Linked DNA regions of Homo sapiens. The protein of the gene in region 1 purifies or fractionates together with the protein of each later gene. This does not show direct contact. Each region holds a gene or a part of one and is shown in the gene's direction. Other genes may lie near its edges. The genes, in order: PITRM1, ESRP2, NFU1, REXO2, DERA, NID2 and MSI2.

Region 1 (4,176 bases):
TGCATTTCAAGCCATCCTGAGCATGCGGGCTGCAGGCTGCGGGTTGGACAAGCTTGATTTAAAACATGGCTATACATTACGTGGTTTAAAATATCATCTCACTAGTATTTTTATTGACAGAGCATCTTGAAAAATAAGGAAAAGTTTACACTGACTTATAATCTCATCAAAATACAATTTTACAGTCTGAGTCAATGATTTACATTATAGTTGGAAAACCCTGTGCTGGAGGATTGTGGTGTCAGAATGATGATTTCTAGTAGCCTGAGGTGATGATGCATCTGGGAACTGTGTCCGCAGCACTAAGCTGAACCTTTTGCGTTCTGGTCATTCTCCTTCCCTAGCGTGCAGTTCCGTACTACTCCCATGGACAGTACTGGTGTTCCTCACATTCTTGAGCATACCGTCCTTTGTGGGTCTCAGAAATATCCGTGCAGAGACCCTTTCTTCAAAATGTTGAACCGGTCCCTCTCCACGTTCATGAACGCCTTCACAGGTAAGACCAGCATCCTGAACAGAAACTGCTTTTGGGTTTGCCAGGCACACCCACTGGAATTCAGTTAGTTTCTGAGAAGGAATGAGGGGAGTGGGCAATTCATGTTCTAGAAAAATTTTTACCTCTCTCTAGTTGAAGGACATTAGAAATTTAATCCTTCAGGAAAGCCACATGGTAGCGAGATTGTAAAAACTAGCGTTTTAAGAAAACATATGTGAACTTTTCCCAGAAAAGTTCAAAACAATTTTCTCTTGGAGATATCGCTACAATGCCAGAGTTACTACTAATGTTGATGTTTGACTTTTAGTAAGACTGACGATAGTGGATAGGGTGACGATGAACAGTGCATTCTGTGGGGGAGTGACATTGAAGAGCGGGTTAAATCCATGCTGTTACAGAATGAGGTCATCTTTGTAGATGTATGAAAGTCTCTGGAGAAACTTGAGAGAGTTTAGATATTCGCTGAAGAAAGCCCTGGTGCCCGTCGAGTGCAGATCCTGAGACGGGATGGGAAAGCCGGCACTTGGGGTTATGAGCTGGGACAGCTGCTGAGGCCAGGGACCAGAGCATGGGGCCACTGCCCCATCCCAAGAATAGCTACAGCTTACTGTCCTAGGACAAAGGGGGAATGAGTCTTGAGAGTCAATAATTTTAGTAGAAATCTGTTATATTTTACAATTTCACTTTTCATTTGTACCCAGCTAGTGATTATACTCTGTATCCATTTTCCACACAAAATCCCAAGGACTTTCAGAATCTCCTCTCGGTGTATTTGGATGCCACCTTTTTCCCATGTTTACGCGAGCTGGATTTCTGGTATGTCATGAATGATTAACTAGTTGATACAGACTTTAGTATTTGAGTCACTATCAGCTTATAATGATTTGTCCTCAGGCAGGAAGGATGGCGGCTGGAACATGAGAATCCGAGCGACCCCCAGACGCCCTTGGTCTTTAAAGGAGTCGTCTTTAATGAGATGAAGGGAGCGTTTGTAAGTTTTCTTCCTTTTTTATGTTGTGTTCAGCTTACCTTTCCCATGTACAATATCATGATATAGACACATCTGGAAGATTTTATTTAATATTCTCATTATAGGTGATACATTCTTGAATTAGCTGGGGTCAGTGCTGTGAGCAGAAGTCGGGGTAGCAGGGCCAGGCTGCTGTTCTTCCCAGCAGGTCTCAGACCATGTCTGGGGACCCCTGGTATGTGATCTGCAGCAAGTCTGTGAGATAAAAGCTATTTTCATACCACTACCAAGACAGTGTCTTTTCATTCATTCTTGCCCAAGTACACGGTGTACTTTCTAGAGGCTGCATGGCAAGGTGTGTGACACACAGCGAGCTGCATACAGAGCAAATGGGGGAGTCCAGCTTCACCTCTGAGCCAGACGCTACAGAGATTTGCAAAAAAGGCAACACAGCACCACTCTAATCAGTTTTTTACTTTGTTATGAGAAGTATTTTTCAAAAATATTTATATCAACATGTAATGATGGCTTACCTTAATGAATAAGTATTTTTTAAATGTCTCAGCTTTAATTTAGAATATAGAAAAATTATATAAACACACACAGGCACCTACACAGGCAAAAACGCCCACATAATCAAAAGCTGTTTGGGTCCTCATTAAAACGCATTTATGCCTAGTGTTCCATTATTGGCACCCTAAGCTTGTGGGAGTTATTTATGTCCTACAGCTCAAGGTCATCGCCAAGGTCTGATTTTTTACAAAAAAATTGCAACCTCAGGCATAAATGGGTTAATTTTTCAGAGTGTAAAGGATTCTTGAGACCATTTTGGATTAAGAGCTGCTGTCCTGGGCCCATGTCTTCATGTCCCTTTGTGACTTGGACAACCTGTCTGTCCTGGTGTCCCTGAGGCTCATGGGTGGCCTGCTCTCTGATTCCCGTAGCTCCTCTCGGCTGGTGAACTATTTCTTACCTTTTCATTCTCAATTTGGTGGTCTTTTCTTCCAAGGAGTCTTCTTGAACTCAAGTTGGGGTGACAGCTTCTCCCCACTTCCCTCACGGCTGGTGGGCAGACCGACTGATCCATCCCGATTTACAGCCCTCAGCTATGCGTTTGTTGCACCACACATCAAAAAATCCATTGTTCTTCTCAATCCTTGGGTCCTGTGCGTGGGTGATGAATGATTGAATACCGTGTTAAACAATGCCTGCGTGGGTGTTTTTTTTTTTTTTTTAAACCATTAGAACAGCTTTATTTGCAAAGTATTACAGGTGTATGCACCAGAATGTGATCAATTGGCTATATTGTAAGTAATGTAACGTGTGTATTATTTTACATGTATACTTATGATTTATTTATTTTACGTTTCAAGACAGACAATGAGAGGATATTCTCCCAGCACCTTCAGAACAGACTTCTTCCTGACCACACGTACTCAGTGGTCTCCGGGGGTGACCCACTGTGCATCCCGGAGCTTACATGGGAGCAGCTTAAGCAGTTTCATGCCACTCACTATCACCCAAGCAATGCTAGGTAATATTTTGTTGGAAAAGTTTGATGGTGGATTGTGAAAAGTTGACTTGTTTGTGTTCTTAACAGTTTATGGCATGGCTTCTCTCACATTTAGCAATGCTTAAGAAATATCTAAGTCTAGGTAAGATTCTTGGCCTAAGTTTGCCTATCTTACTTGGACATTGATTTTGGACATTTACAATGATAGCCCTCAGGAGGCTCAGCATGGTGGTTACAAACACAGCGTTTAGAGTCCCCCAGAGGAGGGTCCTGGCCCCGCAGCCTGTTGCCTCACATCTAGCTTGGTTGCGTGGAAAGTGGGGGTGCATGGATGGTGCCCACCTTGACACGGGGTGTGAAGCTTGAAGCCCTCTCCTTGGCACGGAGAAGTGCTCTTCCAATAGTGGATGCAGTTACTGAACCTTAATTACATCCTCACTTTCTGATACATTGCTTGTTCTTATGTCACTAATACAAGGTCATTATAATAATAATATAGTCATATATCTTATATAAAACACTAATTGTATTTACATATGAATGCTAATGTAAAAACATATTTGCAAGATTATTTTATGTAAAAATAATTATGAAAACTTGAAGCATACAGAAAAGTAGAGATACTAGAATAATGAGCCCCTAAACACTTATCATGTAATAGATATCCTTTCCCTTGCTGAAGTTTTTGGAAGTAAATTATAGACGTCATGATCATTTGCCCGTAAATGTTTGAATTTGTGACCCTAAAACGTGAGGATTTTTTCTTACATGAGCTAATGCCATTTTCAGTTTTAATAGAATAAAACATACTTTCTTAAAACTGCCTATTTCTTATTCCATATTCAGATTTTCTAGTTGGCCCCAAAGTGTTTGTTGCACGGGGTCCCACAGGTCACACCTGGTCGGCCCGGGTTTCTCCTGGGCACCCTCTAGGGGACGGCAGAGGAGTGTGCAGGCCCAGTTTCTTTCTGGCGCACTCACTTTCCAGGTGGCCTGGCTGTTCCCGCCTGGTGTTGGGTGCCATGTTCCTGTGTTTCCTGAGCACTGGAACTTAGATCCAAAGACTTAGTTTGAGTCAGGCTGTGCCTTTGTAAGCAGAGTCCCTCATGGGGAGCTCTCCATAGACGGCCACATCCTACCATCATGTGAGGTCTGCTCGCCTCCACTGGGGATCTCACACCAGCGGGGTCCATGCTG
Region 2 (4,848 bases), on another chromosome or scaffold:
TAGGGGAGTTGGCTGGAAGGGCGTGGCCGGAGGAAGGGCCGCCTCCACCAAGCGCAGGCGCCCTACCGGGCGGGAGGGGGAGGAGCGTTACTCGCGGTTGCGCCCCGCCCCGCGAACAAATATTTGACATTCCAGGCTTATCGGGAGGAGGGGCCCGAGGAGCAACGTTCTCCCTTCCCCCGCGCCTGATTCGCTTACCGCTTCCGGGGGAGGAGACGCATGGGCCAGTGCCCGGGTGGGCGGTCCGGAGATGGACAGCCGCGCACCAAGGCCCGCCTCCACCTGTAGGGAAAGTAAAGTGCTACTCGCTCGAACCCGCCGGGCGAAGGAAGCACTTCCCATGCTCTCCCTGTCGCCGTGTCCGGGCGCGAGTCATTTCCGTCCCGGGCGCCTGTTTCTTTAGCTGCCAAGTGGAGCTACGCTGAGCTCTCTCCCCCCGGGCCTCGCCCCTTTCCCGGGCATGAGCTCTGGTGATGCGCCCGGGTGCCCCGCTCTCTCCATTGTCCAGGGGCCGGGCCGCAGCACCCTCCTTGTCCGAAAGCGCGTGGTGCGGCTCCCGTCTCAGTCTCGAGTCGGGCTAGGCAACCGCGTGACTCAGTTCCCGCCACGCTGGAGCCCCCTCCTTCCTGCTGGATTATTCAGTTTCTCAGTCACTTATTCAGTTTCTCAGTCACCTCCCTGGGAGAGTTTGGGAAAGTAAGGAACGGCCGGGAAACGCGCCATAAAGGAGCCTCACCAAGCTCCACTGGGCAAAGGGAGGAATGGGAGCCCCAAATGCGGGGCTGTCAATTGGGTTGTAGGTGCGGGATGGAAAAGGGAGGATCTGCAGCCCGCATGCGCGCACACACGCTCAACGCTAGCCCCCCATCGGCCAGAGCGCTCGCAATCTCCAGGCAGCTTCTCCACCGTCCAGAAAGGGACGAAAGCAGGCAGGCCCCCACACGTGGGGTAGGAGTGAGGCTCCAGGCCCGTTCTACCCCTCTCAGCCTCGTCTAGGGTGCAGCTCTCTGCGATTTGGGGGGTTCCTTTCCCCAGCATTGAGGCCTGCCCACTCCCAACCCACAACGACCGCGCTCTGGCACTTCTCAGTGCCAGGCTAGCGCTCGGCCCTAGCATCTGCGTGGACAAGCCCTTCCCTGTGATCCCTGGTGACCACCCCACAGCTCTAACAACGCTGATGTTCCCGCCGCCCTCCCCTTTCCCAGGTGACTTCTGGTGATCCCCCTACAGGGTGATACCCGGCAACTCTCACCGCCCCCTTGACCCTTTGACTTCCATCAACCCCAGACCTGCCGTGTTGACCCCCACAGCCCCTAGACTGCCTCCTGGTGACTTCCATACTGGAGAAGGCCTCTGTCTTGCACGCTCCTTTGCAGAGGCCTGACGACCCCTGGGGAAGAGTGGGGGGAGAGCGGAAGAATGGGTTAGCCCCCAAAATCAGGCAGGACCAGCCCTGGAAGTAGGAATCCGGATCCTAAGCGTGCGCCCAGGCCGGGAGCGTGAGCTCTTGCGTCCTGGGTTGAGTTCTGGCGGCCCTCCCCCAAGGTTCCCGGAGCCGCCCCGGTCACGTGGCCGGCGGGGCCGGCAGGTAACTCGCCTGGAGAGGGCGTGGGCCGGTAGCCGCCCCGCCCCGCGGGGCGCCACGGGCGGGTCTTGGCAGCGCCCACTGAGCCAGCCGGGCCGCAGGTGCCGCCCCCGATACACGGTGTCCCGCCCAAGCTGATCCGCGTCTGCGGTCGGTCGGTGCGTGCGTGCGCCTCGTCGGTCCGCGTGTCTGGCCGAGAGCCCCCTTCCTCTGCGGCCATGACTCCGCCGCCGCCGCCGCCCCCTCCCCCGGGCCCTGACCCCGCGGCCGACCCCGCCGCGGACCCCTGCCCCTGGCCCGGATCACTGGTCGTCCTCTTCGGGGCTACGGCGGGTGCGCTGGGACGGGACCTGGGCTCGGACGAGACCGACTTAATCCTCCTAGTTTGGCAAGTGGTTGAGCCGCGGAGCCGCCAGGTAGGGTGGAAAAGAGGCGGTGAGGTCCCCAGGGAGCTTCCGGGGTCGAGGGGCGCGGCTGATCGGTTTCCCCCGCCGCTCACAGGTGGGGACGCTGCACAAATCGCTGGTTCGTGCCGAGGCGGCCGCACTGAGTACGCAGTGCCGCGAGGCGAGCGGCCTGAGCGCCGACAGCCTGGCGCGGGCAGAGCCGCTGGACAAGGTGCTGCAGCAGGTGAGCGCCGGGGTGGGTGGCGGCATGGCCTGGACGTGAGGACATTTCTGGGCGGGATTGGCGGCCGGAGGCTAGGCCTGGCGTGCCGCAACCAACCGGTCCAGGCGGCAGGACTGGGCTCTTGTTTGAAACTTTGAGCGACTCTCGCGTGTGCGTGCCCCTTTCATCCGCGCGTGCCAGCCATTCCCCTGGGCTCCTTACTTTTCAACCATTGCAGGAACCTACTCCTACCGAAGGGATCGGGACGCAGGCTTTGGGATCCATCCCCAGTTCCCGCCCGGGGAGCGAGGCCGAGACGCCTTTGGGAGACCTGCTGGGTCAGGTCTCCCTGAGCCGCAGCCGGAAGCGAAAGGGGTCGAGGGGCCCATATAGGTCACCTGTCCTTGCGGCCCGCGTCTTCGGCCTGCTTGGGAGCTGCTGGAGCGGAGGCGTAGGGCGGTGTCGGCCCTAGAGGTAGACGCCGCCAGGTGTAAACTGCTCGTCTAGGCCTGTCCCGGCCGGCTGGCCAGGCGTGGGCGCTGTCCCGGCCTGGCCTGGGGGACTATCTGCCTGCTGAGTGCAAAGGCCTGGGGTGCCTCCTGCCCTAGCTGAAGTGGGAGGTGGTTTCCATTGCTGTTTTCTTTTCCTTATCTTCACTACGGCGCTCATTCTATGTCTGACTCTTGAGTGTAATTAGTGTAAGTCCTTTTTATACACTCACGTTCTTTCATCTTCCAACAACTCTTGTGGTTCCTGATGAGGAGGCACCACGATGATGATTCCTTGTCTGTTCCAGAAGGGCTCCCGGCCCTTCACTTGGGGAGTTTGCTGGAGGAGAGCTGGGTTGCCTTGCTCTGTCAGCCCCAAGTTGTAAAGTGTCACAGAATTGGCAGGGAGGGTTCGTGGGTCACTGATTAGTGTTTATACTTCTCCAGCAAGGATGGAGGCTGGGGGAGGGCTGGGCAGCCTCAGGAGTGCCACCCCCTCTATGAGCAAACAGCTCAGTGCCAGCCGGTCAATAGGATGTGGGTCAAAGCTCATGCTGCCCCTGATGTCCAAGTGTGGAGCTCTGTCCTTGGAGTTTCTCTGCCCCTCGGTTGGTCAGACCTGGAGGCGGGGCTGCCATTGACCATGAGCCTTCTGGGCCTCAGGCAGGCCTGGGCCTCCCCCACCTGTCTGAGGGTGGTACCCGGTCAAAGACAGGTTTAACCTGCTTTGCCCCGCCCCTTCCCACCTGCTTGTCCCACTCCAGGTGTTTGCTCTGGCCCCACTCCAAACTCCTGGAGTGTGTGTGTTGAGGGCTTCGGTTATATGTGATTGCCCTCATTTGGCCTGGAGGAGGTGACAGTGGACTGGAACAGGGTTGGGGGGTGAGGGGAAGGGACATAGGGCTAGGCTCAACAGGCGTGGCCTCTTATTCCCAGGCAGGATAGGGCTGAACATCTGGCTGAACCAGCTTTGCAGCCTGCCTCCTTCCTCCTACCCTCACTTCCTGCCTGCCCAGCTGTGAATCTGTGTGTTTCTCTCTCCCCATTCCCTATCCCCAGTTCTCACAGCTGGTGAACGGGGATGTGGCTTTGCTGGGCGGGGGCCCCTACATGCTCTGCACTGATGGGCAGCAGCTATTGCGACAGGTCCTGCACCCCGAGGCCTCCAGGAAGGTATGCTCCTGAAGGAAAACCGGGTGGGGTGGGGTGGTCAGTAAGGTTCCCAGAACCCCTCTTGTCCTGAGGGTGGGCAGGGCGCTCATCCTCAATCCTATGTGCCCCCAGAACCTGGTGCTCCCCGACATGTTCTTCTCCTTCTATGACCTCCGAAGAGAATTCCATATGCAGCATCCAAGCACCTGCCCTGCCAGGGACCTCACTGTGGCCACCATGGCACAGGGTATCTGTGACCCAGCAGGGTTAGGGTGGAGAAGCCACTGTGGGTACATGTGTCTGAGTATGTGCATGCTGTGGGTGGGTAATATGGACACATACAAGACTGCGTTATCTGCTAAGTCCCTGAGTGTACTGTGTCTTCGTGTCTGTGCTAGGATGAGTTTGGAATGTGGGTATGTGTCTGTCTATGTCTGGACTGGGAATCTGTATGTGCACACATGAACTGGGCCAAAACAAATGTGTATGCTGGTCTCCAGCATGTGTCTATGGAGGGGAGTTGGGCCCAGGAGTAAACAGGATTAGTGCTTATGCTAAGATGTCTTCACTGTCACTTCTCTGCCCATAGGTTTAGGACTGGAGACAGATGCCACAGAGGATGACTTTGGGGTCTGGGAAGTCAAGACAATGGTAGCTGTTATCCTCCATCTACTCAAAGAGCCCAGCAGTAAGGTTTCCCTCACTGCCTGTCACCTGTTCTCAGGGATGACAAATGCCTATTGCTCCTCCCCACTGTGACCTTCTCTAAGAGACCACGGGGGAATCCTCTTTGTCATTTCTTTTTTTTTTTTTTTTTTGAGACAGTCTCCCTCTGTAGCCTAGGCTAGAGTGCAGTGGCACAATCTCAGCTCACTGCAACCTCCACTTTCCGGGTTCAAGCGATTCTCCTGTCTAAGCCTCCAGAGTAGCTGGGATTATAGGCGCCTGCCACCATGCCCACCTAATTTTTGTATTTTTAGTAGAGATGGGGTTTCACCATGTTGGCCAGGCTGG
Region 3 (4,176 bases), on another chromosome or scaffold:
CAAAGTGGGACCCTGTCTCAAAAAGAAGTTTCAAATGGGGATTGTGTTTCAAAGAATTCTATGTATTTAAAGCTACTGCTGTCCTTTTTTTGGATAAGAATACCCTTAAAATTAGTAAATTTCTGGCTTTCATCCAGACCTTAGAACACAGGATTTTGAATGTAGTAAAAAACTACATTCAAAAAAAAGAAAGAAAAGCTTTTTTGTCAAAATTAATTACTATGGTTTTGTTAATAATCTTGATTGTTAACGAGATATATACTTTAATTTTCTTTAATTTGGGAAATAGATATGATTTAAAATAATTTGAAGTGTGATGACTGTAATGTAGAGTTAGGGAAGTTTAAGGGGAGAGGGTATGTGTGTCTGCATGTGTGTATGTATGTAAATGTATACCTATATGTGTTATGGAGCTGTAAGCATATAAATTCAGCCTCTCCTTTCCATTGCTAGCTTGAACACATTCCTGTGGCCATACTCTGGCTGATTCTGGCTAAGGGCGTGAGTTAAATCAGGGTAGACCTTACCCCTTCTGTAGCCAGGGGCCAGAAGAGGAACACTTTCCTGCAGGCTTGCCTGACTGCTTGGATCACAGAATAGCTTAGATATAAATATTGTAAATACTGAGTAACTCAGCTGATTAAACCACTTTAATTGGACTTTTAAACTTTGTAGGACTGAAATATGTGGTCATATAGGCTTTTCAAATAGGAAACCCATTAATTTTAGTCATTGATATTGACTTTAAGCACCACTAATCTGTATTTTGGGGGAGTTTACATCTACCTCCTTAGGTACCTATTAGTACCAAGCATAATAGGAAAAAATAGGCTGGCATGGTGGCTCATGCCTATAATCCCAACACTTTGAGAGGCTGAGGCGGGCAGATCCCTTGAGCCCAAGAAGTTCAAGACCAGCCTCAGCAACATGGTCAAACCCTGTCTTTACAAAAAAATACAAAAATTATCTGGGCTTGGTGGTGCATGCCTGTAGTCCCAGCTACTCAGGAGGCTGAGGTGGGAGAATCACTTGAGCCTAGGAGGTTGAGGCTGCAGTGAGCTGTAATCATGCCACTGCACTTCAGCCTGGGCAGCAGAGTGAGACACTGTCTCAAAAAAAAAAAAAGGAAGAAATATTTTTTATCATTCTGTCCTGTTTCCTGTTGTAAGTCTCATGACATTTTCATGAGCATCTTTCTGGATGATGGACCTGGGAGTCATTTTTGAAATACAAAATTAAACCCAATTGAGATTATAATTGTAATGATTTTGTTAAGTACCTATTCAAATTAGGTGTTTTTTTTTGTTTGTTTTTGAGGCAGGGTCTCACTATGTTGCCCAGGCTAAAGTGCAGTGATGTGATCTTGGCTCACTGTAACCTCCGCCTCCTGGGCTCCAGCCATCCTCCCACCTCAGTCTCCCAAGTAGCTGGTACTACAGGTGCGTACCAACACACCCAGCTAATTTTCGTATTTTTTGTAGAGACGAGGTTTCACTACATTACCTAGGCTGGTCTTGAACTCCAGAGCTCAAGTAACCTGCCTGGCTCAGCCTCCCAAAGTGCTGGGATTATAGGCGTGAGCCACCGTGCCCAGCCTGAATTAGTTTTTTAGTAATAGCTTTATTTATTGTCAACAGTAAAAAGTTCTGTGATGATGTCATTCATTTTCATACTTTCTACTTTAGATAGTATAGAGTATATGCTCTTAAGTGACTTTTTATTTTGCATTTGTAGTTTTTACCCTCAAGGATTTCTAAAAATTTTGCTTTCTGCAGGTGTAGTTTTTCTCAAATTGATTGAGTAGAATAAAGCCAGATTTTTTTTTTTTGTCTTGGCTCACTGCATTTTCTACTGCCTGGGCTCAAGCAGTCCTCTTGCCTTAGCCTCCTATGTAGCTGGAATTATAGGCACATGCCACCACAGCTGACCAATTTTTGTATTTTTTTGTAGAGACAGGATCTCTGTTGCCCAGGCTGGTCTCGAACTTCTGCCCTCAAGTGATCCTCCTGCCTTGGCCTCCCAAAGTGCTGGGATTATAGGTGTGAGCTGATGCACCCAGTTGAAGCCAGATTTAATTTTTCAAATATTGGTAGAGTACTGTGTGCAGATTTTGGTTAGCAATAAATTATTAATACAAGCTGCAAGAAATGATTGGTTCAGAGCCAGAGTTAGAAGATTATTTACAGAAAGTGTTGGCAGCCCTTTCTTTAATGTGTCATTGAAAAATCATTCCCTTATAACACAGATTTTCAGAAGAATGTCTTACTAGAAATATACATATTTTAAATGAAGTACTTGGACATTGCGGCTATTTTTTCATTTTTTAGGAATTGTCTGGTTGTCTAATTAGAAAAAGGATTTAAACAAAATGTATGGGAGTTCACTTTCAATTTTTTTCTTTATCCATGAAATGGTTTAACTTCAGCTAGCTGGAACTGCATGGCAAAGTACAAAAATGGCTCTCAGTTGTCAAATTAGAACTTTTTCTGTAATGACTAAGAAAAGCATTTTTGTACCAACCATATGTTTTGCCAAATTTAAACTCTTTCAAATTTAAAATAAAACTGTTGCTTTTTGATATTCTATTCTCTCTCCTAAAATAGGTGATGTGAAAATTAGGACAGGAAGATTGATCTTAAATGTATTTTCCTATTATGCCTGGCAATGTTAGATAAGGATTAGCAATATGTACGGTGGCTAAGAAAGTCAGCACCTAGAAAATTGTCCAGCTTTGAATCCTGGCTCTGTCACTTAGTAGCTGAGTGACCTTTAGTCTCCTTATTATAAAATAAGATAAAAATAGTAAGTATTGAAAGTACTCATTGAAAGTATGTAAGGATTAAATGATATAATACATGTAAAGTGCTTAGCACCCTGCCCAGTGCATGATAGGCACTGAATAATTTTTTTTTTTTTGAGACAGAGTCTCACTATGTCTCGCAGGCTGGAGTGCGTGGTGGCTGGATCTTGGCTCACTGCAACCTCCCTCTCCTGGGTTCAAGCAATTCTCCTGCATCAGCCTTCTAGGTAGCTGGGATTACAGGCGCACATCACCACACCTGGCTAATTTTTGTATTTTTAGTAGACACAGGGTTTTACCATGTTGACCAGGCTGTTCTCGAACTCCTGACCTCAGGTGATCCGCCTGCCTTGGCCTCCCAAAGTGCTGGGGATTATAGGCATAACCCACTGCGCCCGGCCAGGCACTGAATAAATTTTAATTGTTATATAGTATTGTCAGTCTATTTAAATATACTGCTGTAAGATGGAGGATTTCTTTTTACTCAGAAGGTTCATTTTCTTTTTTCTTTTTTCTTTTTGAGACAGAGTCTTGCTCTGTTGCCCAGGCTGGACTGTAATGGCGCAATCTTGGTTCACTGCAGCCTCCACCTCCCAGGTTCAAGTGATTGTCCTGCCTCAGCCTCCTAAGTAGCTGGGATTACAGGAGCGCACTACCACGCCTGGCTAATTTTTGTATTTTTACAAATACCTCTACAAAATAACCCTACCTCTACAAAACCCCTGTAGAGACGGGGTTTCACCATGTTGGCCAGGCTGGTCCTGAACTCCTGACCTCAGGTGATCTGCCCACCTCGGCCTTCCAAAGTGCTGGGATTACAGGTGTGAGCCACCACACCTGGCCTTTTTTTTTTTTTTTTTTTTGAGACTGAGTGTCACTCTGTCACCCAGGCTGGAGTGCAGTGGCACATTCTTGGCTCACTGCAAGCTCCGCCTCCCATGTTCAAGTGATTCTCCTGCCTCAGCCTCCCAAGTAGCTGGGACTACGGACGCACACTACCACGCCTGGCTGACGTTTGTGTTTATAGTAGAGATGGGTTTTCACCATGTTGGCTAGGCTGGTTTCAAACTCCTGACCTTGTGATCCACCTGCCTTTACCTCCCAAAGTGCTGAGATTACAGGCGTGAGCCACCATGCCTGGCCTTCTATTTTTTTTTGAGATGGAGTTTTGCTCTTTTTGCCCAGGCTGGAGTGCAATGGTGCGATCCCAGTTAACTGCAACCTCTGCCTCCCAGGTTCAAGTGATTCTCCTGCCTCAGCCTCCTGAGTAGCTGGGATTACAGGCGCCTGCCACCACGCCCGGTTAATTTTGTATTTTTAGTAGAGACGGGGTTTCACCATGTTGGCCAGGCTGGTCAGGAACTCCTGACCTCAGG
Region 4 (4,176 bases), on another chromosome or scaffold:
TGGAAATCTGTACTTGTAAGCTAATCACATTTACCCAAACCTGATTTAGAAATATAGAGGTGCTTTTAGGAATTGTTTGAATTTTAAAAAATCATCTCCATTTCAAATACAACTTATGAATTTTGATATCCTGTTGTATAATACTAGAAATATAGAGATGCAGTATGCTTCGTGTCTTTCTAGGAAATTCAGTTCATGAAGATAAGAAGTTTCTTGACAAATACATGCCCCAGTTCATGAAACATCTTCATTATAGAATAATTGATGTGAGCACTGTTAAAGAACTGTGCAGGTAAGGGCTATATTTAGGATCCATTAAATTACCTCATTTAGCATGTTTTAATTGAGAATTTGTGGAAAGTAATTGGATAGAGCTGTAGAACTAAGGCTACCAAGTGGGTTCATATCTTCCTCATCCCATTCTTGCTTGTATAGGACCTTAACTTACCCTGGACTGGTGAGAATTGGGAGCAACAACGTCAGACATGTTCCCAGTAAATAAGCCAATGCCTGGCACAAAATAAGTGCTCAATACATTTTCTGGATTAACTAATATTATGTGGAAGTCTTGTGACTGGGAACATATAGATGAAAAGCTCTTAAGTACTTTAGAAAATAGTGGATCGACATATGTGTAAAAAAACGCACCCTGAAAATATACTCTATGATGACTCCTATAGTGAAAATGTGCGTATGGACTAGTGAGGTCACAAGGGAAGCAGCATCTAACTGTGCTGGAGCAAGAGGAATGGGGAGTCAGAGAAACCTTTACATAGCAAGGAAATAGCTTTGAAATTGAGATGTGAAGAAGAGTGGAAGTCTTGCAGGCATTTTATTGAGGAGAGAGCATTCAGAGAGAGCAGACAGAAGTATAAGAATGTGAGGGAGCAGGAAGCTAAGGCAAAATGTGTTAAATGAATCCCAAAGCATTCATTAATGCTGGAGTGCAAAGCATGAGGTTGGAGAAGGTGGGAGGTGGTTCTAGGGCCTCAAGAGCTTGCACACCATGCCAGTGAAGTTCACTATGATCTTGCAAGGAATGGGGTTCCTTTGAGAAAGTGTAGGTAGAAGAGTGAGTGATAACGATCGTTCTGATTCGAAGGTGGCAAGAAAAGTGGTAGAAAGATAGAAAGGAGGCTTTTTTTTTTTTTTTTTTTTTTTGAGACGGAGTCTCGTTCTGTCGCCCAGGCGGGAGTGCTGTGGCGCGATCTCCGCTCACTGCAAGCTCCGCCTTCCGGATTCACGCCATTCTCCTGCCTCAGCCTCCCGAGTAGCTGGGACTACAGGCGCCCGCCACTGCGCCCGGCTAATTTTTTGTATTTTTAGTAGAGACGGGGTTTCACCGTGGTCTCGATCTCCTGACCTCGTGATCCGCCTGCCTCGGCCTCCCAAAGTGCTGGGATTACAGGCGTGAGCCACCGCGCCCGGCCTGAAAGGAGGCTTTTCTGCCATCTTGGGGAGAAGAATGAACTGGAGAAAGGGCAGGGCATGGAAATGAGGGGCTTGTATGATAAAAATGTGAGAGGGTCAGTTGACAGACACTCAGTGTTCGAATGAGGTGGTGTGAAAAGGAAGAGGTATAATGTTATTCTGATGTTTGTAGTTTGAGCAGCTTTGGTGGATGATGGCAGTGTTCAAATAAAAAGGAGAAGAAGAAGAGTAGATATGGTGGATGGGGCAGGGGAGGTGTTGACAATGGTGGGTGTGTTTTGATGTATGTTGAATTAGAAGTGTCTGGTAGATTTTTAGATGGAGATATCTAGTGGGCAGTTGCATATCCATGACAGAAACTCTAGGGAGGGCTGGGCTGGATTTCCAGATTTAGCAATCTTACACACTGATGAGCTTGCTCATAGAAAATATATAGAAGAAAGAGAGGAGAGGGTAGAAGATAGAGGCCCCGGCAAAGAAGCAACTTGAGAATCATGACTCAAATGCCATTTTCAATGTTAATGGATTACTTGAAGGAGGTAATTGTTCAGTATATTTGAGACAGCTTCCTTTGAGAGTTCCATTTCTGCTGTGTATAGACGCTGGTATCCAGAAGAATATGAATTTGCACCAAAGAAGGCTGCTTCTCATAGGTAAGTTTGAGTTCTACCAAGCGTTTTCCAGTCTGACACACACTTAACTCCCAAATTCCTGACTGCTTGAAATAATGTCCCTTAACTCTTTTTTCTCGGGGAAAAGATAAAGTTCAACTAGCATAAACATAACATTCTTTTACTGTTAGGAATTCTGGTCAGGATTCCAGTGTTCCATTCTGAGAGGGTTATATAGCCTTTATTGCTGTTTCAAAACTCTTAGATAGCTTGGTTTATAGGAATGATGAAACAATCTGTAATCTTTCTAGTAATGAACCGTGTTAACTTTCTTCCCACAGAAGATATGGACTTGCAGCCTTTTGAAATTAGAACACTTTTTGTGTGCAATTCTATAATACAGTTGCCTACTTTGACACTTGTTATAGTTTTTCTGATTGTTTCTCTTATGTCTGTAGCCTTAGGTACAAGTAGACAAGGAATTTAAAGATCTTGTATATTCATGTGTCCTGTACTGGTTCTTTTCTTTTTGATTTTGTAGTCTTTCAGGAGAAACATGAAACCTGATGGGAGGTTTAGCAGCTGGCTTCTAAGGGTAGCATTTATTAAACCATTTACTGAACCCCTATGATGTACCTTGCACAGTTATAGGCAAATAGAGAAAGACCAATCCCTAAAGAGTCTGGCATTCTTACATTATTTTATTGAGTGTATGTAGACTGTAGCACAGGCATACAGGCCTAGACTACCTTATCTGACACAACTGGGGTATGTTTTGATTTCAGAATTTTTCAGATTTTAGAAAGGTGTTACTACATCTGTATTGTTTATTATCTTGTAGCATCCCTAACAAGGTTTGAGAAGCAGCCCATAATAAAACACATAGGTATTCTGCAGTGAAACGTGTATATTCACACCAAATGGCATAAGTAATGATGACTGTCAATAGCCTCACATTAAGATTGCTCAGGTTTTGCTACATAATAGGTTCTGTAAGTACTGTGGGTTTTCAGGTGTGTTTTGGATTTCAGTTTTGTGGATAAGATATTGTGTGCCTTTATTTAGCCAGAGGCTATAATTTTGGCAGCTTCGGCTCTGACATATATCCAAGTCCTGGAAAGAAAGCAGATGGTTGCCTTAGCCACACAAATAATTGTCATAAAACTCTTGCACTAAAATTTGTGCAGGGAATTCTCTAGAAGTGGCCCTTGGCCCATGATTCAGAGTTTATTGATTTACTTGCACACTGTTCTAATAATCTTGGTTACCTGATTTCTCAGAATACAACAGATGAGAAACAACATATTGGAAGAAAAGAAAGGCTCTTAGATGGAGGCAGGCTGCCACTGATTATAGCACAAATCACCATGAGAGAGGAGGTAGATCCTCTGGTATGGTTAGGTACTGTTTGATAATTGATGTTTATTATGATGACTGAGTCATGACTTATGTTCAAGTGTGTCAGTCTGTTTTGTTGAGGGACATCATCAAGTATTGGGCAATGTTTCTCAAACTGTGTTCCATGAACTGTTTATAAGTATTCTACAAATGTGGTCGATTAAGTTTTAGAAATACTAAAATTTATTAATTTTAGAAAATTAATAAATTAGAAATATAGGACAGCTTCCTTTTGGGAATTCATAATACACATTAGTATATTAAATGCTTTGCAACTTTTTATTTCAGTAAAAAGTTTACTCTAGTTTTTCTAAACTTATTTGACCGTGGAATTATTTTTTCTCCCTGTGGAACATGTCGCCATCTTTTGGAACAATTTGGGAAACTTTAATCTTCTATATTTTACAAATTTTTTTGTCAAAAGTTTTTAAAAAACAAAGCATTTAAAGAAAATTGCTTTTCTGAAATGTTCTACTTTTGATGATGCTAGACAGTGACACTTACAGTAACATCCATTGTTCTTAAGTCGTTTTTTAAAAGTTGTACTTTTAAAATGATTTTCATCTCCTGGTTTTGGACAGTTCATTCATTGTGGTATGTTTGCTTATAGGGCACTTGATGACATTAGTGAAAGCATCAAAGAGCTTCAGTTTTACCGAAATAACATCTTCAAGAAAAAAATAGATGAAAAGAAGAGGAAAATTATAGAAAATGGGGAAAATGAGAAGACCGTGAG
Region 5 (4,176 bases), on another chromosome or scaffold:
ATCATCCCTAGTACTCAGAACTGCACGTTATTAAGGATCTGTGAAAATAGTCTGTTCTTTATTGAACCTTCTGTGGGTACCATCTCTCAGTGGTAACAAACTTTCTAAACTTACTGAGCATCTTGGAATAGAATATTTGCTTTCATTTCTCTTCATTTTTCACTTCTGAGCTTCAAGTTCATGTTTTCTGTGATTGAGAAGGCAAGCTTTATTTGGCTGTTATAACTTGTGGTTTTAACTGAGACTAATTTTTCATTTTTCTAAATGTACTTTACTAAGCCTGTGAATTATAGAACTCTCATTTTAGCTTTAAGAAATGCTTACCCCAACCCTTATTATGAATGTTTCCCTCCTGCTTGGTTTACTCTGTATGTTTATAAAACTACTTCCTATGGGCCGGGCACCGTGGCTCACACCTGTAATCCCAGCACTTTGGGACGCTGAGGCAGGCGGATTACCAGATCAGGAGATCGAGACCATCCTGGTTAACACGGTGAAACCCCGTCTCTACTAAAACTACAAAAAGTTACCCAGGCGTGGTGGCAGGCGCCTGTAGTCCCAGCTACTCGGGAGGCTGAGGCAGGAGAATGGCGTGAACCCCAGAGGCGGAGGTTGCAGTGAGCTGAGATCACGCCACTGCACTCCAGCCTGGGTGACAGAGCAAGACTCCATCTCAAAAACCAAAAAACAAAAAACAAAAAAACCTACTTCCTATGAAAGATACTCAAATACAAAGGAAAGAAAAAGCCTTGGTCTTGTTACCATGGCAGTAGCCTGAGTTCAAGAAATGATAGTGGCCGGCCTGAAAAAGCCAAAATTCACTAGTATCATTGACAAAAGACTTAAATAATTTTTTAAAGATTTAATACACATGATTTTGGTCTAATTTGCTTACTAAAATCCTGCTACCTTTCATGTAAAATGTTACCTTGAATATGAAATATGAAATAAATCTGGGCCCAATGTGGAACCCTCCAAAGCCAGATGTGGTACTGGGGTCATGGGCTCAGGGGTTAACAGATTTAAGGCAGCATCTCTGAGCCTCCCTGCAGAGATGGCTTTGTACACATGCGTCCAGCACTACCTGGCCAGGCCTAACACTTTTTAGTCAGATATATAAACATACTCTGGCAGGCAGTGGGGCAAGCTGCTGTGTCTTTATTGTCATGAACATAACTCTCAAGAAAGGTGTGCTTTATATCCAACCAAAGAACCTATTACTTGTGAATGGAAGAATTAATAAGAACCTAAGATTTTTTTTTATTACTTTGCAAAGGGGTACACCACTGTATGTATGGTAGCTACATTTGTTTTTTGTTGGAAGCAACCATCATATGGACAAGACAGAAATTATTTATAATTTGCATGTCATTATGATATTTAAAAAGCTCTATGTCTCTGGACCTCAGGCCAGGGCTTAGAAACGGTTTCATGGTAGCAAACTAAGCATTCCTTGTAACAGGATGTGAACTGCAACAGAATGCTCCAGGCAATGTTAAATTGGGGTGATTTTTAGAAAGTGACAAATGTTTTATGTTTCCTAAATGTGAAATGGGTTCCACCAGCTCTAAACGGCTGCCAAGTTATGTTATCACTTGCCTGCTTTGTAACTGCCTCAATTATTTTCTTCCCCAGCCCTGTATGATGAGATTCGTCAGTTTCGCAAGGCCTGTGGGGAGGCTCATCTTAAAACTATATTAGCGACAGGAGAACTTGGAACTCTTACTAATGTCTATAAAGCCAGTATGATAGCAATGATGGCAGGTAAGTGTTTTATGTTCAAATAATGTTTTCTATTGAATTGATGTTTTTAGGAGAAATTAAGTAAGTGAAAGCATTTAGCTATTATTAAACGTGCTAACCACTTGGAATTTTTTTGCGGGAGGAATCGGATATTTTGTAAAAACATGTTCAATGTGAAGTGGTCAAAAACTCCTGGCTTTCTTCCACATTTTTTTTTGTGTGTGTGTGGCATTTCATTGCTGCACTATGCTTATAAGGCAGTAGATGGCTCTCTTGTTAGTGAATTGCCTTCTGTTTTATTCTTTGATTATTCACTCATCAACATATGTTAGACAGGAATTTCTTTGACTTACTCCTCTCTGAATTTAAGCTTTTCATTTATCTCAGAGATATATATCCATACTATCTGAGACAGCCTCTGCTTTTGTTTGTGTTAATGTTTTAAAATTTAGTGCAGTATCATTGATTTTTATACTTTCAAATATAAGTTGACTTATTCTTTATCTCTGTGAACAGCAGGTCTATCCATTTAGACATCCAAGCTTGCAGCCTAGGAGTCATGCTTGGTTCTTTCTTTTTCTCACCTCACATAAATCAGTGAAGAAGCCTTGAGAGTTCTCTCTAGACCTCTTTGCTGTGTCTGACACATCTTCCCTCCATTCTAAGTGCTGCTGTCTTAGGCCACCATCCTCCTCCACAGGGATTACTTCAGCTGTTCCCCTGTCTTCCTGACTTTTGTTCCCCTCCAATCTGTTCTCCACACTGTCACCACAATTTTTTTTTAATGCTAATTTTATTATGGTACTGCTTGCTTAAAATTCCTTCAGTGGTTTCCCTTCATCTTTATGGTAAAGTGTACATTCCTTGATTCTTATTTTAAAAAGGTCCTTCCTAAGACCCTGGCTGTGCCTCTGCTGTGTCATTTTCCCTTCACACCATGTTCTCCAGCCAGGTAGAGTTACTTGCACTTCTCTGCAGATGGTGCCATCCAACCTTTTGAGTCTTTGTACGTTCTGTGCCTCCTGCCCGGAATGCCTTTTGCCCAAATAACTCCACATCTTGGGGTTCAGCACAGGTACCACCTTTTTCAGGAATTATTTCCCCTGACACTGCTTCTCCCCCTGCTGTTTGGCCCATTATCTCCTCTGTGTGTCCCCACGGCATTCAAGTAAAAGCCCTATCATATAACTTATCACATGACATTGTGATTGAGTGTTGAATTTCTAGGTGTCCTTCTAGGGGCCCTATATTTGGATGAAGATACCTGGTTTCTCTGGTCTTGAATCTGGGCCAGCCATATTCTTGTGTACTTCTTGAGTGCTCTGTCAGGCCTAGTAGATCATTCCTTGGAACTCTACTGAAAATCAGCCTACTAGTCAGCAATGGTGCTGTTGCTCTGGGCACAACTGCTGTATCTAGAAAATATCTGCAGTTGTTATCTGAGAGCAAAATCTCAGAAAAACCTAAGGATGAGAAGGGATGGAACACTTTGAACAGTTGTTCATCAGTGATGTTGGCATTTCAAAGATTCACAGTAGAAGACTCACTGTGCCTCTTAGGAACCTGGGAAAAGCCCCTTGGAGGCTACTTGGTGTACAGGTAGCCCCCCTTTATGCTGCTTGCCAGCACAAGTGATTGTTAGCCCAGGTAACAAAGTAAAAGTTTGGAAACGAATAACAGCAGCCACTTATAGGACATACTTTGTGGTAGCCACGCTGTTGGTTGTGCACATGGAGCTGAGATACTCCTCAGGGTCACATCGGAGCCAATCTTGTGATACCTGTTACCCCAGCTGTTATCCTGGTCACAATGAAAGTGTATTCATTCTGGGAGGTCAGCCAACCCTGTCCTACGCACAGCACCTACTACTCATGATACAAATGTGGTATTAGGTCATCACGCTTTGGAAGCTGTGTCCCACCCTCCACCCATCCTGTCCACAGAAAAAAATGTGATTATAAACATGTCCCTTTATTTCTTCCTGTCTGCTTGTTTCTCTGTTCATGTTGTTTATCCACTTCATTTCTTCATTTAAGCAGTGTTTGTTGAGCACTTAGTATGAGTAATAAAACCGTATTCATGGTGTGCTTTACCAGGTACATTGAAACAATATTCCTTCGTCCTCACATCAGTCCTGGAGTGGAAGAAATCTAGGATTGTGTGACTTGTTTAAGGTCACAAAGCTAATAAATAACCTGTATCACTATTTGAACACTCTGGTCTTCTGGCTCCAGATTTATTGCTTTTTCACTTGTAACATGGCTATTTCCCAAGGCACACACTAGATTTTATCATGAATGAAAGACACAATCTTTGTGAGGCATAATATATGAAAGCATGTAGCATACTTCCTGGCCTATAGTTTATACTTCCTACTCTGTTAAGAAGGTATATAATAGAATTGAAGTATTCTTTGATGAACTTGAAATATTT
Region 6 (4,176 bases), on another chromosome or scaffold:
TCTCCCAGCTGTTCTGAGAAACAGGATGATTCCATTCAGAACATTTGTGTCCTCTTACCCCAATTTGTTGCAGCATATTTGTCAGGCTTTTTAAATTATGCACAGATCTGTCAAATGCAAAAATGGTACTTGGGGCACCTGGGGATGATTTTACTTCATGGGGAAGGGGTGCTCTTCTCCTCCCAGCTCCACAACCTATAATAGTATAGGCCGGTGCACCCCAGACTTGAACCTGCACACACATCACTTGGAGGTCTTGTCAAAATGTAAATTCTGGTTCAGCAGGCCTGGGGTGGGGTCCGTGATTTTGCTTTTCTACCAAGCTAGGAGGTGAGGTACCAGTGTTGCTGGAAAGGCCACCCGTTGACAACAAGGATTTAGAAGATACTTTTTGGATTCTCACCTTCCAACCTGAAAACTTGTTTGCTAGAGGTTTTATCTTTATTGCATTAAAAATAGTTTTGTGAGAAGTTCTTTCTCCATCTTTAACTGCAGAGCTCGGTAGCTGTTAATAGGTTCTTGCTTTAATCAAAATTTGAATAAAGCCCTTGGGTCAAAAGTAGATAAAAAATGGCACACCTGGATAAATTTGTATTTCAGATAAACAATTTTCTAGTATAAGTATTACCCACATATTTCATGAGACATACTTATCTGAAATTCAAACAAAACCCTGAATGTCTTAGGTGGTAGTTTATTTGTTTTTGTTTTTTTGTTGTTAGGTTTATTTGTTTGTTTGTTTTTTGCTAAGTCTAGCAACCTTAGAGAAAAGTCAAGGACGTTCCCAAGAGTATTTCTCACAGAATACAAGCTTGTTCAAAGAGAAGCTGGGTGAGGTAAGGCAGGATGAAACCATATTCTTCAATGGAAAAGTTTGGGAACTTATGGAATCAACAGCTGATAGTGCTTACTCTCAGATATCAGATAATCTCCTTAGGCACGATCTCCAACAGCAGTAGAAATTGGGAGCGGGCAGTATATACTGGTAACTGTTTAAGCAAGACCTCTTTTCATCCCTGTGCTGAATGTTTTTCATCTCCAGGTGCTGCCTTTACCCATGACATGGAAGTTACATTCTACCCGGGAGAGGAGACGGTTCGTATCACTCAAACTGCTGAGGGACTTGACCCAGAGAACTACCTGAGCATTAAGACCAACATTCAAGGCCAGGTGCCTTACGTCTCAGCAAATTTCACAGCCCACATCTCTCCCTACAAGGAGCTGTACCACTACTCCGACTCCAGTATGTATAACCAGTCTTCACATCTGTAAAATGGGGATTATGCCCATCTCACAAGATAGATACAAGGCTTAAATGACTTACATGGCATGTCCTTAGAACAGTGCATGGAACATAAAATGAGCTCTATTATGTTATTACTCTTATTGTTACCATGAAATATATCGTGTAAGTGAGCAGAATGGCTGCTATACATAAGAATATCTATATCCCTACATAGTATTTTCAAATAATAAAATCAATAGCAACATTGTCCATGGGGTGGGTAGGGATGGTATAATTATATACAGTTTTTAACCATCCTACTTTCTGCAACATGGAAAAATAGTGATTATTGGAATTTATATTTATCTCAACCTTGTTTCAGCTGATGAGTTCAGGCTGCTTTAAAAAAAAAAAAAATCACAGAAAGAGGCCAGGTGCAATGGCTCATGCCTGTAATCCCACCACTTTGGGAGGCCAAGGTGGGTGGATCACCTGAGGTCAGGAGTTCAAGACCAGCCTGGCCAACATGGTGAAAACCTGTTTCTACTAAAAATACAAAAATTAGCAGGGTGTGGTGGCACGCTCCTGCGATCCCAGCTACTTGGGAGGCTGAGGCAGGAGAATCATCTGAACCTGGGAAGTGGAGGTTGCAGTGAGCCGAGATTGTGCCATTGTACTCCAGCCTGGGCGACAAAGCAAGACTCCATCTCAAAAACAAAACCAAAAAACACAGAGATGCTATAATTTATTATAAAACTAATGCTAGATTTGGAGTCAAAAGATAAGAATTTATATCCTGGACTTGCCATTTAATATCTATAGGGAAAGGCCTCTTAATATCTGAGAATGTATTTTCTCATCTTTCACATGGAACTAAAAATGCTTTTTCTATATTATGTGATCAATGTGTGCGAAGCGTGATGTGTTCTGTGAAAGTACTACCTGCGCACAGGATGCTGCCTCCATCACAGCTGCTGTTGTGCAGCACAGCAATCCGGATTGAGTTGTGCCTTTCCTCTGACCCCTGCTGCTCCTATGCTGAGAGCTGGCAGCCTGGCAGGAGATGTAGGGAAGACAAGGGGAAGCAGAGACCTGGGCTGTGAACAAAATGGTCAGTGTCCGGATCACTGACCTGAGCTTGACTCCTAGACTCAGATGGTGAGAGACAACCCTTTCCCTTCTCTGGAATCCTTCAGATTTACTGAAGTGCGAGGTGTTGGAAGTCGTCACTTCTGTGAAATGTAGAAGATGGATTGGTTTAAAATTTAGGGTGTAGAGTCAAACCAATGTGAGTTTCAGTTCCAGCTCTACCATGTGGCAGCATTGCATCTTAGGCTACTTAACCTTTGTGAGCCTCTGATCACATGATTTAGTGCCCACCTCACCAGGCTGTTGTGAGGAATAAATGAGGCAGTATGTAGAGAGCACTGTTGGCATGGCTGGCCCTTAGTAACACTTATTCTTTGTGTATAATAACATGGACAATTGTAGTGCCTTCTCCCTCTCAGCACTGTGGCTTTGCATCCACTCAGGTTTTTGGGATTTCCTTACACATTTTTTCATATAAACTCAGGAGGTTCCCAAGGGAACACACTCCAAGAATTAGATGAAAAAAACTGCAGAAAAATCCACCTCACATGAAAATCTCTGTATTTAATATTTTTAAAAAATTACCACTGTGTTTGTTGCAGCTGTGACCTCTACAAGTTCCAGAGACTACTCTCTGACTTTTGGTGCAATCAACCAAACATGGTCCTACCGCATCCACCAGAACATCACTTACCAGGTGTGCAGGCACGCCCCCAGACACCCGTCCTTCCCCACCACCCAGCAGCTGAACGTGGACCGGGTCTTTGCCTTGTATAATGACGAAGAAAGAGTGCTTAGATTTGCTGTGACCAATCAAATTGGCCCGGTCAAAGGTAAGGTTTCCTTTTTTGTTGTTGGGTAAAAATGACATCCTTTTAAGTAGAGTTAGAATGATTCACAGAGGTTACTAAGGGTTACCTAGTGCCATGCTGTGTTATGTGCTAGGTATAAGGATGAATAGAGCAGATCCTTGCCCTTGAGTTGGAAACAGAGGCAGAAAAGAGTTTTAGGGCAGGGAACAGTGTCCCTGCCAAAGTCAGGAAATAGAGCATAGTATGTGAAGCTGGTTTATAGCAATACCCAACTGTGCGTGCCAATCAGGAATATACCTGTGAACAAGGCAGACTGGAATTAGGAGGGAGAGTGATGCTGACAAGTATTTGTTACAAGTGTGATGAGAGCAGGGCACTGTGAGTCTAGTTTGAAGATTCAGAAAAGATGTCCCCAAGAAAGTGACATTTTAGCTAAAACAGATGAGAAGAATTTCATCCAAAACTAAGGTGGAGCAAAGAGCTAGTATCTGGAAAAACCAAACATCATAGAACTTGATGTATAACCTCCCCCTCCATGATTCCCAGAACATTATACTTAATGGTGAAAGACTGGATGCTTTTCCCTGAAGCTTAGGAACAAGACAAGGATGTCTGCTGTTGCCACTTTTATTCAATTCAGTACTAGAATTTCTAGCCAGGGTGATTAGGCAAGAACACAAAATAAAAGCCATCTAAATTGGAAAAGGACAAAGTAAAATTAGTCTCAGATGACATTTTGTGTAGAAAATCTCAGGAATTCACTAAAACACTATTAGAACTAAAGAACAAGTTCGCAATGTTATAAGATATGCAAGATCAGTACACCAAATTGTATTTCTCTATAGTAGCAATGAGCAAACTAAAGATTAAGAAATTGTTTCAAAAAGAGATAAATTTTTAAAAAGAAGTGCAGTACTTGTACATTGCATCCCACAAAACATTTTTGGAAAAAAATTTAAGACCCAGTTAAATGGGAAGATGTTCCACATTCATGGATTGGAAGACTTAATACTGTTAAGATGTGAATACTTCCCAAATTGATCTATTAAT
Region 7 (3,509 bases), on another chromosome or scaffold:
CAACCCTCTGACATTCAGCGCCATCCACAAAAGAGGAGCCCAGGCCCCCTACTCCCAGTCAATTCAGGGAGACTCAGTAAACACATCTGTGAATCCTGGGCCTGTTTTTGTTTCCTGTAACCAAAGCCGGTTATTTGTTGTATATTTTTAGTGTCATGACCTTTAGTTTTTGGTATATGATATGATCTTTTAGTGTAAGTTTGCATTTAAAAGTTATCGATGGGTATCTAATAAAGGCAAGTTTGTGGGGTTTTTTTTGTTTGTTTGTTTGTTTTTTTAACATTTAGCTTTGAAAACAGAAGTTTAAACAGAAAAAAGGTATCTCAGGTCAATGGGCAGTTTGCCCACCTGGCTGCAATCCCTGTAAGCACATTTCCCACCACTACCTCAACAACCCTATGGTACTATATCAAATCAGCAAAAGAATTGAAGCCTTGTCCTCTCCCCAGTGTCAGGTATGGTTTAGATGTCAGATTTCCCAACCTGTGATCTCAGTAAGCTTCTAGCCAGGTGATTCTCGTGCGTATTCAATAGTCCAGTGAAGTCCATCTTTGAAACTCTAGTTAAAACAGTGGAGGAAATCGCATACTTGTCTGACACTTCTTTCTCCTCCCCTCTCCCCTCCATTTTATGTTTTCTTCTGGACATCCTGGCCTTCCCTGCCCTGCAGAGCATACCTGGATGTCCAGGCAAGACTGGGCGAAGTTTCTGAGTGGCCCTTTGTTTAGGTGATGTCCTCAGACCTGGACCCCCACCAGCCTCACTCCCCATCCCAACCAGAGATGGCTCACTTCGGATCGAGGGTTGACTACATCTCATCATCTCACGAATCTGCTGTAATATAAGACAACAGCTTTTAAATGTGTATATAACCCATGATTTCGGTTTTGTTTTGTTTTGTTTTTCTTGATGGTTTCCCTCTCCCTCCCTCTCTTCCCATTCTCCTTTTAAATCTCTTTGAATCACATTTGGTAGTGATTTTGACTTAGTCCAGTAGTCACATAGCTTTAATATCTAGTTCAAAGCTAACCATAGTATAATTGTTATATTAAGGAGTTATTTTTTCTTAAAACATTTTTTTTTGCTTGTTTTGGTTCTGTTCTCACTTTTAAAGGATGCTGAGATGGTAATATGACTCTCCATATTTTGGTACCAATTCTGAGACTGTATGAATTTTCAGGTGGAACTTTAGCACACACTGAAGCAAAGTTGTGAAGTGCAGGGCGGGAGGTGGGCGTGAGCTTTCTATTTTGCGTTGTAGAAGAAGTGAGATGTAGTAAGCTAATTAACAGACTTTCTAGCAGTTCTTTTTGTGATGTCTCTTTGTTAATCTGAGTCTATCTATTTTCGGCAATAAGGTAAGGACGACAGTGTTTTGAGTGTCCTCCTTTTCTATAAGTGCTTTTTTTCTGTTGAAAGAGGTGATATTATAAGGTTTTTTGAAATTGTGAATTCTAAAAAAGAAATGTTGTAAATACAATTCCATTAACTACATAGAAACTATTAAGAAAGAGAGAATCAAAAATATTTTTGTGAGGGAGTCGGTCCCAGGCAGTTTGATGCTCTGTGGAAGGAGGCGGGAAGGGAACGTTGGCCAAGTCAGTTACTGAGATGAAGATCGCCCAGCTGCCAGGACCACCCCAGGACAAGTTAGAGCACTGTTTAGCTCCTTTGTCTGTGTGATAGACCTAAGAACTGTATTAGTGTTGTACCAGCCTATTAACCTCTTGTCTGTGCACAGCTTCAAATGTTACCGTCTAGTTAGATTTTTATTTAAAATATGAAAAACTGCTTTTCCCAAGATGTTTTTTAAAAACAAAGCTACAATTTTAATATTTAACATATTTAAAGTTTCAAAGCACACCTGTTTGGCTTGGGTGGGGGTGGGGTGGGGGGGACATTCTTTTTCAGTCTTAATTTTTAAATATTTGATCATTTTCTATTGTCCAATCATTTCAGCACCTCCAAAGGTCCCTAGGACACTTTGCCTCTCTTCTCCCCCTGCCCCCCACCCTGCTCCCACATCTGGGGGCCCATGGGCCAGGAGTGGATAAGCCTGCATTAATACAACCTTTCTCCATTCACTTTCTATTTACAAATTAGGAAAGCAACCTTTTGGTTTATATATATTTTTTTTAATACCTCAGTGCTGCAAGTATCACCAGAGAGGCTATGGAAGAATTTTTTTTTAATTTATTGTAGATGTAAACAGAATTTTAAAAATAAAAAGTATAAACATCACTGCACTGTGACTGGTGGGAAAAACTGACAGTTTCCTCTTTGCACATGTTTAACATTTGGCTGTTATAATATATGGTCCTCGGTTGGGGAAAGATACTTATGATGAAGGATATTTTTTAATTTAACTTTTTTTTAAATATTGGTAATAGGTCGGCAACAGCAACTATAGAAGTACAACTCAATAGATGGCATTAAAACATATTGTAGTGTGGATATATATTTTTTCTTTTTTAAAATGTGATATTGACGTTTTATTAATATTTTTTAAATTGTTACGTTTATAAATTTGGTACTTAAGGCACAGCCAGTATGAGACACTGAATGCGACATTTATTATAAAGAGCTGCTGCACTCCTATTTTTATAAATTTTACTAACAAAGTAGACTAATGTAGACATTCACAGACATGGTAGGGCAAAAGCATCTTCAAACTAAAGACTCCAAAATGCTAACTCAGAAAGAAAGAAAAAACCCGTTTTCAATTCTAATGAAACAGCAACAACATTTTTTTTAATTAAAAAAAAAATCATGTTCTTTGTTTTTCTAATAAAATGTTAGGTTGTTTGGTGAGGTTTTTTTGTTGTTTTTTTCCTTTCTTTGTTTCTTTTCTTTTCCCCCAAACAACCAGATTAAATGCTGAGCGCTTTTAAAATATCAAAACTTGTTCAAGTCATAAAACAACAAAACATAAGTTTTATTTAAAAAAAAAAAAAGAAAGAAAAAATAGTAAATTCCCAGAAATTCAGTGTTTAGACGAGGGAATTTAATTCCTATTTTGTCCATGTTGGTGATGTACTGTACTTCCCTTCCTTTTCTCTGCATCCCCCATCACCTCATAGAAGACTCTTTGTTGATCATTGTATGTTAATAATGTATAAAATGGCTATCTTGTAAGCGTGCTGTCCTGGTACTAGTGTAGCGACTTTTTTTCTCCTCTTTCTTCTAGTACATATTGATAGGTATAACATAATTAAGGTTTAAAAAAAATTAGACATAGTTATTCAGATTTAGGACCAGTAAGGATAGAACTTTCTCTTATTTATGAAAAAAAATGCTAATAATTTTGGGGCAGTTTTTTCCTTTAATTATTTTTTTCAATTTCAAGTTTAATTTTATTTTAGCTGATCTGATGTGGTTTCAACTAACCCAAGGTCTCACCATGTTAAAATGCCGGCGGACTCTACGGCGTTTTGTAGATCCCCCCCCCCCCACCCACTGTGAAGGGGTGCCATACTACCTTAAATGCTAATGCTAGATATGCAAAACTG

What was found.
Region 2: the proteins of PITRM1 (region 1) and ESRP2 fractionate together in Homo sapiens (co-fractionation; one large-scale study listed by BioGRID). This does not show direct contact.
Region 3: the proteins of PITRM1 (region 1) and NFU1 fractionate together in Homo sapiens (co-fractionation; one large-scale study listed by BioGRID). This does not show direct contact.
Region 4: the proteins of PITRM1 (region 1) and REXO2 fractionate together in Homo sapiens (co-fractionation; one large-scale study listed by BioGRID). This does not show direct contact.
Region 5: the proteins of PITRM1 (region 1) and DERA fractionate together in Homo sapiens (co-fractionation; one large-scale study listed by BioGRID). This does not show direct contact.
Region 6: the proteins of PITRM1 (region 1) and NID2 purify together in Homo sapiens (affinity purification with mass spectrometry; one large-scale study listed by BioGRID and IntAct). This does not show direct contact.
Region 7: the proteins of PITRM1 (region 1) and MSI2 fractionate together in Homo sapiens (co-fractionation; one large-scale study listed by BioGRID). This does not show direct contact.

What each region holds. Positions count from the first base shown.
Region 1 is NC_000010.11:3,162,549-3,166,724, reverse strand, and holds part of PITRM1 (presequence protease, mitochondrial isoform 2 precursor), read left to right. Parts: intron 1-344; coding exon 345-496; intron 497-1,197; coding exon 1,198-1,312; intron 1,313-1,390; coding exon 1,391-1,487; intron 1,488-2,839; coding exon 2,840-3,000; intron 3,001-4,176. UniProt on the Homo sapiens protein: Metalloendopeptidase of the mitochondrial matrix that functions in peptide cleavage and degradation rather than in protein processing. Has an ATP-independent activity. Specifically cleaves peptides in the range of 5 to 65 residues.
Region 2 is NC_000016.10:68,233,001-68,237,848, reverse strand, and holds the start of ESRP2 (epithelial splicing regulatory protein 2), read left to right. Parts: upstream 1-1,721; 5' UTR 1,722-1,803; coding exon 1,804-2,001; intron 2,002-2,086; coding exon 2,087-2,215; intron 2,216-2,226; exon of another isoform or gene 2,227-2,668; intron 2,669-3,741; coding exon 3,742-3,855; intron 3,856-3,966; coding exon 3,967-4,081; intron 4,082-4,349; exon of another isoform or gene 4,350-4,423; coding exon 4,424-4,522; intron 4,523-4,848. UniProt on the Homo sapiens protein: mRNA splicing factor that regulates the formation of epithelial cell-specific isoforms. Specifically regulates the expression of FGFR2-IIIb, an epithelial cell-specific isoform of FGFR2.
Region 3 is NC_000002.12:69,427,167-69,431,342, reverse strand, and holds part of NFU1 (NFU1 iron-sulfur cluster scaffold homolog, mitochondrial), read left to right. Parts: intron 1-4,176. UniProt on the Homo sapiens protein: Iron-sulfur cluster scaffold protein which can assemble [4Fe-4S] clusters and deliver them to target proteins.
Region 4 is NC_000011.10:114,445,796-114,449,971, forward strand, and holds part of REXO2 (oligoribonuclease, mitochondrial precursor), read left to right. Parts: intron 1-183; coding exon 184-292; intron 293-2,030; coding exon 2,031-2,084; intron 2,085-4,050; coding exon 4,051-4,176. UniProt on the Homo sapiens protein: 3'-to-5'exoribonuclease that preferentially degrades DNA and RNA oligonucleotides composed of only two nucleotides. Binds and degrades longer oligonucleotides with a lower affinity.
Region 5 is NC_000012.12:15,980,673-15,984,848, forward strand, and holds part of DERA (deoxyribose-phosphate aldolase), read left to right. Parts: intron 1-1,635; coding exon 1,636-1,764; intron 1,765-4,176. UniProt on the Homo sapiens protein: Catalyzes a reversible aldol reaction between acetaldehyde and D-glyceraldehyde 3-phosphate to generate 2-deoxy-D-ribose 5-phosphate. Participates in stress granule (SG) assembly.
Region 6 is NC_000014.9:52,037,718-52,041,893, reverse strand, and holds part of NID2 (nidogen-2 precursor), read left to right. Parts: intron 1-1,042; coding exon 1,043-1,243; intron 1,244-2,916; coding exon 2,917-3,147; intron 3,148-4,176.
Region 7 is NC_000017.11:57,678,879-57,682,387, forward strand, and holds part of MSI2 (RNA-binding protein Musashi homolog 2), read left to right. Parts: intron 1-670; coding exon of another isoform or gene 671-712; 3' UTR 713-3,509.